Linked DNA regions of Homo sapiens. The protein of the gene in region 2 purifies or fractionates together with the protein of the main gene of each other region. This does not show direct contact. Each region holds a gene or a part of one and is shown on either strand. Other genes may lie near its edges. The genes, in order: CLINT1, PICALM and CLTCL1.

What was found.
Region 1: the proteins of PICALM (region 2) and CLINT1 purify together in Homo sapiens (affinity purification with mass spectrometry; 3 studies listed by BioGRID and IntAct, with this or other methods). This does not show direct contact.
Region 3: the proteins of PICALM (region 2) and CLTCL1 purify together in Homo sapiens (affinity purification with mass spectrometry; 3 studies listed by BioGRID and IntAct, with this or other methods). This does not show direct contact.

The regions. Positions count from the first base shown.
Region 1 is NC_000005.10:157,857,521-157,861,271, reverse strand, and holds the start of CLINT1 (clathrin interactor 1), read left to right. Parts: upstream 1-2,126; 5' UTR 2,127-2,301; coding exon 2,302-2,342; intron 2,343-3,751. UniProt on the Homo sapiens protein: Binds to membranes enriched in phosphatidylinositol 4,5-bisphosphate (PtdIns(4,5)P2). May have a role in transport via clathrin-coated vesicles from the trans-Golgi network to endosomes. Stimulates clathrin assembly.
Region 2 is NC_000011.10:85,957,345-85,961,095, reverse strand, and holds part of PICALM (phosphatidylinositol-binding clathrin assembly protein), read left to right. Parts: intron 1-318; coding exon of another isoform or gene 319-411; exon of another isoform or gene 412-421; intron 422-2,035; coding exon 2,036-2,050; 3' UTR 2,051-3,751. UniProt on the Homo sapiens protein: Cytoplasmic adapter protein that plays a critical role in clathrin-mediated endocytosis which is important in processes such as internalization of cell receptors, synaptic transmission or removal of apoptotic cells.
Region 3 is NC_000022.11:19,285,056-19,288,806, forward strand, and holds part of CLTCL1 (clathrin heavy chain 2), read right to left. Parts: intron 1-3,751. UniProt on the Homo sapiens protein: Clathrin is the major protein of the polyhedral coat of coated pits and vesicles. Two different adapter protein complexes link the clathrin lattice either to the plasma membrane or to the trans-Golgi network.

The DNA.
Region 1 (3,751 bases), on a different chromosome or scaffold from region 2:
AAAAAAACACAAACTTCTTATTTGAAAGCCCTATTCCTCTACCCATCTCTGCTCATCTTTACCTGCCTCTCCCCACCCACCTCTCCAACTCACTTCATATCAGCCCAAGTACTCCTACCATTACAAAGCTCTGAGATAACTTTGGATTTCTGCTTGTTGTAATTTTCTGCCTGTCAATTCCTTCAACCTTGCTTCTTTCTCTTGGGGCCTCAATCCGAAAGCCTTACTGAAACTTTTTTCAAAGCTGCTTTCGGTAATTAAGTGAATGCAACTTGGAGAGGGTTTCCTGTAGTCTCAGCTACTTGAGAGACTGAGGTGGGAGGATTGCTTGAGCCCAGGAGTTTCAGATCAGCTGGGGCAACAGAGTGAGACCTCCAGCTCAAAAAAAAAAAAAAAGAAAAAGAAAAAGAAAATAGAAAAGAGGTGGTTTCACTTGAGGGACCAGGGTCCGAGGTTGTTTATTTGGGATTATTGTTACCTAGCTTCATGACTAGCAACCATCAATTTCACTTCTTTGTGAATTGGAGTCTTTATTTGATCCTTTCGAGGGATCCTTCCATTTCAACCTCCTAAGTAGCTGGCCTCACAAGAGTGTGCCCCAACGCCTGGCTTTTTTTTTTTTTTTTTTTTTTTTTTTAAAGACTGGGCTGGCAGGGGGATCTCACTTTGCTGCCCAGGCTGGTCTCAAACTCCTGGGCTCAAGTGATCCTCCTGCCTTGGCCTCCCAGCCTCCCAAAATGCTGGGATAACAGGCGTGAGCCACTGTGCCTGGCCTGTAATGAACTATTGTAGAACCTAAGATTGGCCTTTTAAGACGTCTTTTCAGGCTTTTGCATTTCTGACAAACGGATGACCCCACCCAGACCAGCCACTCCTCTGCTGGCCCTCCATCAAGAAGCCGATTCAGCAAAGGAGAACCATTTTCCATACTCCTCTGATTGCATCCCTAACCAATCAGCAGCACCCATGCCCTAACCCTCTGCTCACCAAACTATCTTTGAAAAACTCTAGCTTCCAAATGTTCAGGAAGATTGATTTGAGTAATAACTCTGTCTCTCAAGTGGCATGGCCAGCCTCATGTCAAACTCTTCACTGCAATGACTTGGTCGCAGTGAATTGACTTTATCTGTAAAGTGGGCAGAAAGAACCCGCTAAGCAATTACACTATATGCAATTATCTTAAATGTTTCCTTGATTATTATATGTTTCTTCCAATTACGTTTGAATTCCAAGAGAGCTGGGTCTTTAACTATATTCCCCACTTCTGGAACATACAAGATGCTCAATAAATATTTGTAGAATGAAAAGAACTGTAAAATTTCAGCAGATGGATCAAATGAAACTTAAGGTTGCTTGTAGCTTTAACATGAGCATTGATAAAAATGAGTAAGTAGAGAAGGAAGTGATGACAACCATTGCAACAAAGCAATGGAAGCAATGTGCATATTTATCCTTAAAAAACACAAACCTGTCATATGTATGTGTATGTGTGCGTGTATATATAATGTTGGCTTTTTAGTTTCCCGTGGAGTGTGAACTGAGTTTCTGAGGTTTATAGTAAAGCATTTAACAAGGATTTCAGGTAGTTGTCTAAATATAAAACATTGTATCATAGAATTAGAGCGGAAAAGGATTTAGAATACAAGTTCTTCAATTTTACAGGGGTGGAAACTAAGGCCTAGAGATCTAAGTGTACTTGGGCATTGGGAAATAAATACAGCGATGTGTCTGTCGATGAGGAATGCGTATGCCAATCATACTTCTGTATAATCATTACTAATAACATAGTAATACTGCCTTACATTTGAAAAGTGTTTGAGTGTGACTAGACCCTGCACCAGTGGTTCTGAAACTTGAGCGTGATCAGAATCACCTAGAGGATTTGTAAAAGCACAGATCGCTGGGCCCCACCTCCAAAATTTCTGGCTCGGTAGGTCTGGGGCCGGGGACTGGGAAAGCTTAAGAGAAACCATCCCAACTCCTCTCAGCTCTCCCAACTCAACCTCTCAGCTCTCCCAACTCAACCGGCCGAGCTCGGCACTCAGGGAAAACTACAAGTCCCGGCGTGCCCCGCGCGCAGCGGCGGAAAGTCGGACACTTCCGCTCCACGCAGCGCCTGTGCTGCCGCGTCTCGACGTGTCACCGGCGGCGCCGCTGCTGTGGCAAAGGAAGGAGCTGACTGGGGGAGTTCGAGGCGGCGGGCGGCGGTGACCCCGGCCTGGAACTGCCCCGGTACGGAAGTGTTCCGGGGTCCGTGGGGAGCAGGAGAGGGAGGCGGCGGACCGTCCCGCGCGGGGCACGATGTTGAACATGTGGAAGGTGCGCGAGCTGGTGGACAAAGCGTGAGTATCGGGGGGCAGTTGTGGCCGAGGCCCACGTGGGGGAGGGGGGAGGGGGAGAAGGAGCTGGCCTTGGGCTAGGGGTTGCCCACGTCACGCCCCCTGGCTCTGCCAGCCCCATCATGGCGGCGGCCCGCTCCTTCCCGGCCCCGGGCCTCATCCCCGCTGGCGAGGCTGGGGAGGGACCCTCCCTCGTTTTAAAAAAAAACATCCTCTTGGCCACCCTTCTCTCCTTTCCAGGCCTTCCCGTCCCTTCCCCTATTCCAACCCCTGGGTGCCGACGCTTTGGTCATAAGGGGCGGGTTGTTTGGCGCTGGGTCACTGCCCTGGCCGGAGGACTGTCTTGGCCCCAGGCCGTGGGCTTTGCCTCCTGGGGAGCAGGGAAGGTTTGGGGGTGGGGGGCACAATGCACTGGTTCCCTGTGTCCCTCAAGGTGTAGTACGGAGAGACCTTAGACCTGGTTGGGGTGTGTCTTTTATCTTCCTTGCCTCCTCTTAATTCCTAATGAACCTGAAGTGTTGGAGTGGGTGGTAGTAGTGTAACAAGTGGCTATTGTGGTCAGCCTGAAGTTACTCAAGAAGACACTCATCCTTTGCTTTTCTAACACTAGTGAAAGTAGATCACTATATGACTTCTTGCGATTTTTTCTTCTGTTTCTTTTTCCACTACACATCATTTTTGGTGTGCTACTTGTTCCATTCGATTAAATTAAGAGGTCATTAAGAAATGTCCTCTTAAGGAAAAAAACAACCCAGGTTTATATCCTGTTGATCTGCTTTTAAAAGCAGGTAAAACGACCAGTACGTAGTTGATTTCCTTTAAGACTGAAATAACTTTAGTCTCTTACTTGCACAAGGAAAACCTTAACTTTTAAAATGAGTATATCAGGTATAACAGTGGTTAAGTAAGGTCTTCTAGGCCAGCAGGAAATAAAGTTTAAGAATTTAAGCAGTCCTCTTCCTTTGGGGCTTTAATGATTATGCAATAAGTGTGGTGAGAAAAACAGTTGATTTGTGCCACCCACCTAACCTAAAATCAGGAAGTATAGATAGCAAACTGTTTTCTTGACACCAGGAAACAAAGTAATTTCCAGTGCCTTGTCTGATACATCAGATAGAACTTAGAGCTTGACCATATTTTTATATTTTCTGTGCTACCAAGAAGGCAATAGAGTGCCTAAGGAGCACAGGTTTCAGAACCTGCAAAGCTGGGTTCAAGCTTTATAACCTTGGGGAAGTTACTTATCCTCACAGTGCCCTAGTTTTCTCTGGTACAAAATGAAAATGCAACGATACCTACCTTAGAATGTTGTTGTGAGGCTTAAGGGTTAAGGGATTGTATTGCATATAAAGCCCTTAACAGAATATGTTTATATTAGTGTACTTTTGAAACTAGCAAATGTTTTGCATTTA
Region 2 (3,751 bases):
CCACCACCCCCCATACACACATTAAAATTCTTAACCATGGGTCAGCTTATATCGACCTTTTGGGTAAAAGACATTATTCCTTTGAAACTTCAGAAGCACGAGTTTGTTTTCTGAAAAACACATGCCATTGCATACCTTTTAACTTGACATATGACTGAAACTTTTGTCTTAACAATCCATTTTCTACAAAGACTGCCCTTATATTTATTAAAGATGACAAAACCAAAACCACTTCTTCTTTCATACATTTTCTGCTTTCATGTTCTGTCATTCTGAGATCTTTTTTTCTTTCCCTCTCTCTGTCTTCTTTTCCCCCAGCTGTCGGCAGCATCCAGCCCCTCCAGTCACAGTCCTCACAGAGCTTCAGGAAAGGACCCCTTTGCAGAGCTCTCTTTGGAGGATTTCTTATAAATCACTTTAGGTATTGCTACTTGTTTTGGGAGATGGGGACTTAAATACTTAAAAACAATTACCAAACATTAAACACAATTCACGCTTCTCTTTCATTTCTTTAAAGGACTCTAGGCTCCCTCTCCTCCTCCTCCTCTTCCTCTATTCTTTAGGTGCAGAATGAAAAGATAGGACATAAGGAAAAACAACTTTTGGAAAATATCTGTAACATAATTATTTAAAGTAATCTCATCCACTGCTCACAGTAAATGGATGAGATCGGATAAAGTTTGCTTTTTAATTAAGGGCAAGTGAATACTTAAGCCCTTTCGATTAGAAGGATTCTGCATATGATCCACACTGCCTCTGTTTGCTGGAAGACAGTGTAATTTGTTCTTCTTGATGCTCTAGCCCCCAGTTTAGATATACCTTCTAGATCTTTGGGAGTTTATAGTCTTCTGATTTGGCAAGTTTATTAGCACATCTACTTCAGTAATCTTTGGATGGGCAGTTTAAGGGAAATTGTGAGTGAAATATCTTTGAATGAACAGTAGTACCCTATTGAAAAATATTTTTATGGCTCTTTCAGGTTCTTATTTATGTTAATAAAAAGACTTAGTATAATATTACTGTTCCCTTTATTGTCTCTAATTGTATATCATTTGGAAATAATATTTCAAATTTTGCTTCCCAAATGAGATTTTGCTTGTGGTATTTGTGCTTATGGAGAGATTTTTCTGAACTTGTCATGAAAAAATAGGTCATTGATCTTCTTTCTTTTCCTCCTCCACATGCTATTCCTCTATTTTTAGCAGTTAAGTATTTGGCCTGGATGTGGTTGCTTATGCCTGTAATCCCAGCACCCTGGGAGGCTGATGCGGGAGGATCACTTGGGGCTAGTAGTTCAAGATCAGCCTGGGCAATACGGTGAGACCCTAGTCTCTACCCCCACCCAAAAATTACCCAGGTGTGGTGGCGACTGTCTGCAGTCCTAGCTATTCAGGAGGCTGAGGCAGGAGGGTTGCTTGAGCCCAGGAGTTCCAATGAGCTTTTTTTTTTTTTTTTTTTTTTTGAGATGGAGTTTCGCTCTTGTCTCCCAGGCTGGAGTGCAGTGGCACGATCTCAGCTCACTGCAACCTCCACCTCCTGGGTTCAAGCCATTCTCCTGCCTCAGCCTCCCGAGTAGCTAGGATTACAGGCGCCCGCCACCACGCCTGGCTAATTTTTGTATTTTTAGTAGAGACGGGGTTTCACCATATTGGCCAGGCCAGTCTCGAACTCTCGAACTCACCTCAGGTGATCTGCCCACCTCAGCCTCCCAGAGTGCTGGGATTACAGGTGTGAGCTATGGTGCCCAGCCATTGAGCTTTGATCATGCCACTGCAATCCAGCCTAGACAGCAGAGCAAGACTCTGTCTCAAAAACAACAACAAAAAACATTATTTGGAAGTCCCTATATGTGTCAAATATTGAGCTTTCTGGCACATAAGTTGATAATACTGACTTTGTTTTATAAACAGGGTTTGTGATAAGCATGTTGTGAACACTTCTGGGCCAGTTAAATGGTAAAGACCACAAAGCATTTTTATTTATGAGAAGACATCCTACAATACAATGAATTAACATACCCACTTTTTTTTTCCAGATACAGTTTATGTAACTTGATGGAAGAAAATGGAATTACTCCAAAAAGACAAGTGCTCAAGCAGCAAAATCCTTACTTCCAGCAAAATCCAAACTGCTGTCTCTTAAATCTCTTAAACTCTCTTCTTCCATTAGAATGCTACAAGTAACTCAGTGAAGGCCCATGAAGGAAATTGGGACTAGTTTATAGGAGAACGTATCAATACAGTTTATAAAGCCAAGAATTGCTATGATTTAAGACTAAGATCTGTCTTTTTGGTGACTAACCCTTCAATTCTTTCAACTCCTGTTAATACCCATAATCAGTAACCTATCAAGAAAAGCCCTTATTTGGAAAGTGTGAAATTTGTATTTGGAAAAGCTGCCTGGAGAGAAGAACTGTGTCCTTTACTGTATTTCAACAGGACTCTTTTGGGGGATCAAAATTAAAATTCCTAATTATGCATTATCTTTCTTTTCTCCAGTCCTCACAAATACAGAAACAATAACTGAAATTAACTTTTCTTTTTTTAAAAAAAATTATATTCAGTTTGCAGTAGACATTCCTTAAGTATTTGTATTTATTTATGATTATCAATTTTACATAACATTAATATTGTATCAGACCTCCTTATGAAAATGAGTATGGATGTGCACAGTATGTTTGATTTTTATCCACAAGAATGAATCTGATTCAGAATGCTTTTCTCAGCTGACATACAGAGCACTAAATATTTTAAGGCAAGTCCATAGGTCTGAATCTCTTAAGAATTCTCGGCCTCTGTGGGATTTAGGGAAGCATTATAAATGCATTAATCCTTATAGTCAATTCTGTGCCTAGGATTTTGCCAGGGAACAGTTCACTGACTAGGAAAAGCACTACATTTTAAATTCAGCATTAGTGCATTGGGAAGGATCTTTACTGCTTTGTGCTTGGCATGTCATTATTTTCCATTTGACATTAGGGCCTTTCCAAAATGAATGTGAGGAATTGCTTTCACTTCAAGACTTTCCTTCTTTTCACTAAAACTCTAGAAGGTGTTACAAGGGGGAGGGAAGGGGGGCAAAGTCCTTGAACATTTTCTTTGGCTCGTGCCATGTTATGATCATATACCTTTTAAATAAGGGGAAATAGTATCTTTAAAGTTAATGTCTAGCCAAGAGTTTAGTAAACGAAGAATTAAACTGCACTGTTGATCGGTGCTTTGTGTAAATACATCTTTAACATTTGGGTGGAGAGGGGCCTTAAGAAGGACAGTTCATTGTAGGAAAGCAATTCTGTACATGAGTTTAAGCATTCTTGTTGCATTGTCTCTGCAGATTCTATTTTTGTTTACAATATTAAAATGTATGTTAGCAAAATGGGTGGATTTTCAAATAAAATGCAGCTTCCACAAAAGTTTTGTTATGGTATTCTGGTCTGAGATGCATTTTCATTTTTCCTTTCTCTTTTTATTATCAATATTGTCATTTTTCCCTAATAAAATATACCCAGGTGATTATATTTGTTGATCTAATAACATGGAAGGTTTGTTTTATATGAATTTTCAAAAAGATGTCTCTTTACACTTTTTGTTACCTTGTAGACTCTTATTGATAAATGCAACTACTTATTAAAATTGTTCACTTTTTGTCTTTTGATCAGATGCCTTTAGTCAGGTAAGTTTAAGGGAAAATACGCAGTTTAATGTTTTGGTACATATAATTATGTCTGCCAAAGAAACCTTTGATTGTATCA
Region 3 (3,751 bases), on a different chromosome or scaffold from region 2:
ACAAGGTCAGGAGATCGAGACCATCCTTGCTAACACGGTGAAACCCTGTCTCTACTAAAAATATAAAAAATTAGCTGGACGTGGTGGTGGGTGCCTGTAGTCCCAGCTACTCGGGAGGCTGAGGCAGGAGAATGGCGTGAACCCTGGAGGCAGAGGTTGCAGTGAGCCGAGATTGTGCCACTGCACTCCAGCCTGGGCAACAGAACAAGACTCCATCTTAAAAAAAAGAAAAAGAAAAAGAAAAAGAAACTTACCAAAGAGCCTTTCCTAGCCTAAAGAGGGAGCTCTGTAAATGAGGGCCTATGAAGAATGTTGACACTAAGGTCTCTTCCAGAACTTACATTCCAGGAGTAGGTTAGTTCAGGGATAGTTAACTACATTTATATAATGCTTTACAGAACTTCTCTCAAATTACACTATTACAGGTTTTCTTTATTTTAACACCAGTGCACAAGACTCTATATTTATCCCAGTTAAATGTCAACTAGCTGGATTCTGGCCTGTCAAGATATATCCGATTCTAATTTCATCACTGAACTTTGCTATCCCAGCTTTGTGGCATCCTTCTTCAGCCTGCCAAGAGTGATGGTCATCTCTCTGGCATGGAGGCCAGCAGCAGGCCTCAAGAGAAGTGGAAGAAAATGTGGGAGAAGAGCCTGCAAACTCAGTAAAGTCTCAGTGAAGAAGCAAAGGAAGGAAAAATCAGACAGATTGCAGAAAGATTCCCCCTTAGAGAAGGGGGTGACAGGGTGCCAGCAACTACTACCCTAGGGAATACTGATAAACAACATGTCAGATAGATGCAGTGATCTGTCTGTGATCCTATGGGAGGATCTTCAGTGTGTTAAGTTACAAAAGCAAAGGGCAGAAGCATATTTAAAGCAGGATTCTTTTGAACATTTTTGGAAGGATATGGTGGCTTCGTTTATAGTGGTTTCCCCTGGGGAGAGACAGACAGAGGCTGAACTGAAAGATTTTAATTCCCATCAGACTAGCCCCTGCAACAGAAATATCTCAGCAGAGAGGAACCTTGACTCAGATCCTCCTAGGACTTAATTCTTTCAACCCAACCAACTAAAAAAGCACTGGTTTGTGTAGCTTAGGCATTCTGAACATTTAAATGTTCTATGGTGAAGATCTGTTTTTCCAAAGAGTCCCCATTCAAATTCATTTACTCTTTGGTCACCCACAATGCCACAGCGGTAGGTACTCCCACAAGGCTCACCCTCGCAGACACCCTGGCTGAGGCAGGTTACTCTCCTTGCTTTGTAAATAAACAAGTCAGAAGGCAACTAACTGGCCAGTATGTATTTCCAATACCAGAAGCAGTGGTAGGCCAACAGGCAAAATTTAACAGTTTACATGGTATCTTAAAATGACATTTTACATGGGATGCAATAATTTTAGGATGCAATGAGCCAACTGCTGTCTTAGTACATCAAAAACCACTTCACAAAATGAGATAGCTACATAATGGCAACATAAACCAAATATGGACTGGATTACTATGGGTACGTGTCCCTTTTTGGAGCATGACCCCCAGAAGCCTCTCCAGACACACACGGGTGTGTGTGGATGGGAACTGTTTTCAGTTCAAGCTCAATCTACACCTTCACAGTTTTACTTTCCCCCCTCTTTCCTTAATGATTAATATTGACTAACATGTAGAAGGCTGTTTCACCTGGGCTGTGTGTAAGACTCACCTGGGAAGGAATACCAAAGCTCCATCTCCACCACTCAGAGCTTTGGATTTAACATCCAGCAGAAATATGTTTAAGGCTGCAGGCCATTCTCACATGCAGCCTAGGTAGAGAAGCACTGATTAAGATCTTGACCATCTTTCTCCTACAATTCTAATGCTCAAGGTCTCTACACCTGTTTCAAACACCGCCTCAGAGACACTTTGAGGGAACATGTTTACGTTTTCTGTGTATTGAGCTATGACACATTTCACAGCTTACAAACTTGGAGCTGCTTTTTTGATATAGCTGGGGGGAATTACTTAGGGCTCAAGAAAATTTTTATGTCACCAAACTATTCAGCCATTCCTCTTCTGAATCAAGATGTCTTAAGTGCTCAGCCCATCCTCAGATATTACAAACAGCAATACCCTTCCAACTCTCACATTTGAATATTTCTAAAAAGTTCAAATGGTAGCTCCCTGAGCTCACAATCCAGCAGAGAAAATGAACAGCTACAGTACCCTGGGAAGAGTGTCATTATAAGAGGAACCCCAAAGAGGCACAGAGGAAGAACTCCTAACTGACAAATCAGGGAGAGCTTCCAGAGACAGCGTCATTTCCACAGATACCAGAAGGCTCAGTAGGAGTCAGTGAGTAAAGAGGGGTGAGAGGAGAATGTGTTTTGGCAAGGACACAAAGGGAGCGGCAGCAGAGTTGAGCAGGTGTTGGGCTGGGAAGAACAGGAAAGAGCACGTGGGGATCAGTCTTTTCATGCCAGAGGAAACACGAAACCACTCCCTGAAGGACTTTAAGCAGATGCTCATCCTTGGAGATCATGTTGCCTGTGTGCTGGAGAATGGATCACAGGAGGGCAAGACTAGAAGTAGAAGGACAAAGCTAGCATGACCATCAAGGTGGGGAGGGATGGCATAGTTTAGGGAAACGGTAGTCATGATGACAGTGGCAGAACGATGCCAAAAGTAAACAGGAGAAAGGGACAACAGGATGGGGAAAACACATCCCAGGCTCCTGGCTGGACACTGGACAAGATACACATCTGGGGAGAAAGGGAACCCCATTTATGAACACTGTGTTTGAGGAACCTGCTGACCATTTCCTGGCCTTCTTCAGTAGGCAGCTGTCACAATGGCAGCAACAGCTCACAAGGACACAGTGCTTTACAGTAGTCCCTTCTTATCCGTGGTTTTTTTCACACTGTTACCTATAGTCTGAAAATATTAAATGTAAGACCCCAGAAATAAACAATTCATAAGTTTTAAATTGCATACCATTCTGCAGAGTGATGAAATCTTGCACCAGCCCACCCAGGACGTGAATTATCCCTCCTCTGCCCAGCATATCCACGCTGTAGACATTGCCAGCCCATTAGTCACTTAGTAGCGGTCAGTTACCAGGTTGACTGTTGCAGCATCACAGAGTTTGTGTTCAAGTAACCCTTAATTTACTTAATAATGGCCCCAAAGTCCAACAGTAGTGATGCTGGCATATTGTTATTATTGTTCTGTTTTATTATTAGTTATCATTGTTAATCTCTTACTGTGCTTAACATAAATTCAGCTTTATCATACATATGTATGCATAGGGAAAAAAAGTGTATAAAGGGTTCAGAACAATCTGCAGTTTCAGGCATCCTCTGGGGGTCTTAGAACATATTCCCCATGGGTAAATCGGGACTACTGTATTATGTAACAGTTATTGTTTAATGCTTTACATTTATTAACTCAAAAACCTCACAACTACCTTGTGAGATAAGAAGTATACCTTTTATCCTTATTTTATAGATGAAGATATAGAAGCACAAAAAAGCTACAAACATTGCCCTAAATCACACAGCCAGTAAGTGCCTGAGTCCACATTCAGTGCCTTCAGTTTGGCCTCAGTCTGTGCTCTTAACCAGGACCTGCTACTGCCTCACACACACACAGCAGTGAAACTGCGAAAACACTCGGATGGCTTGGGAACATCAAGCTTATGGGAATACATAACATCACCAGCAGCATGTCCTGAATGAAAAAGCAGAGGGGCTCAAGACAGATTCCAAGCTCATG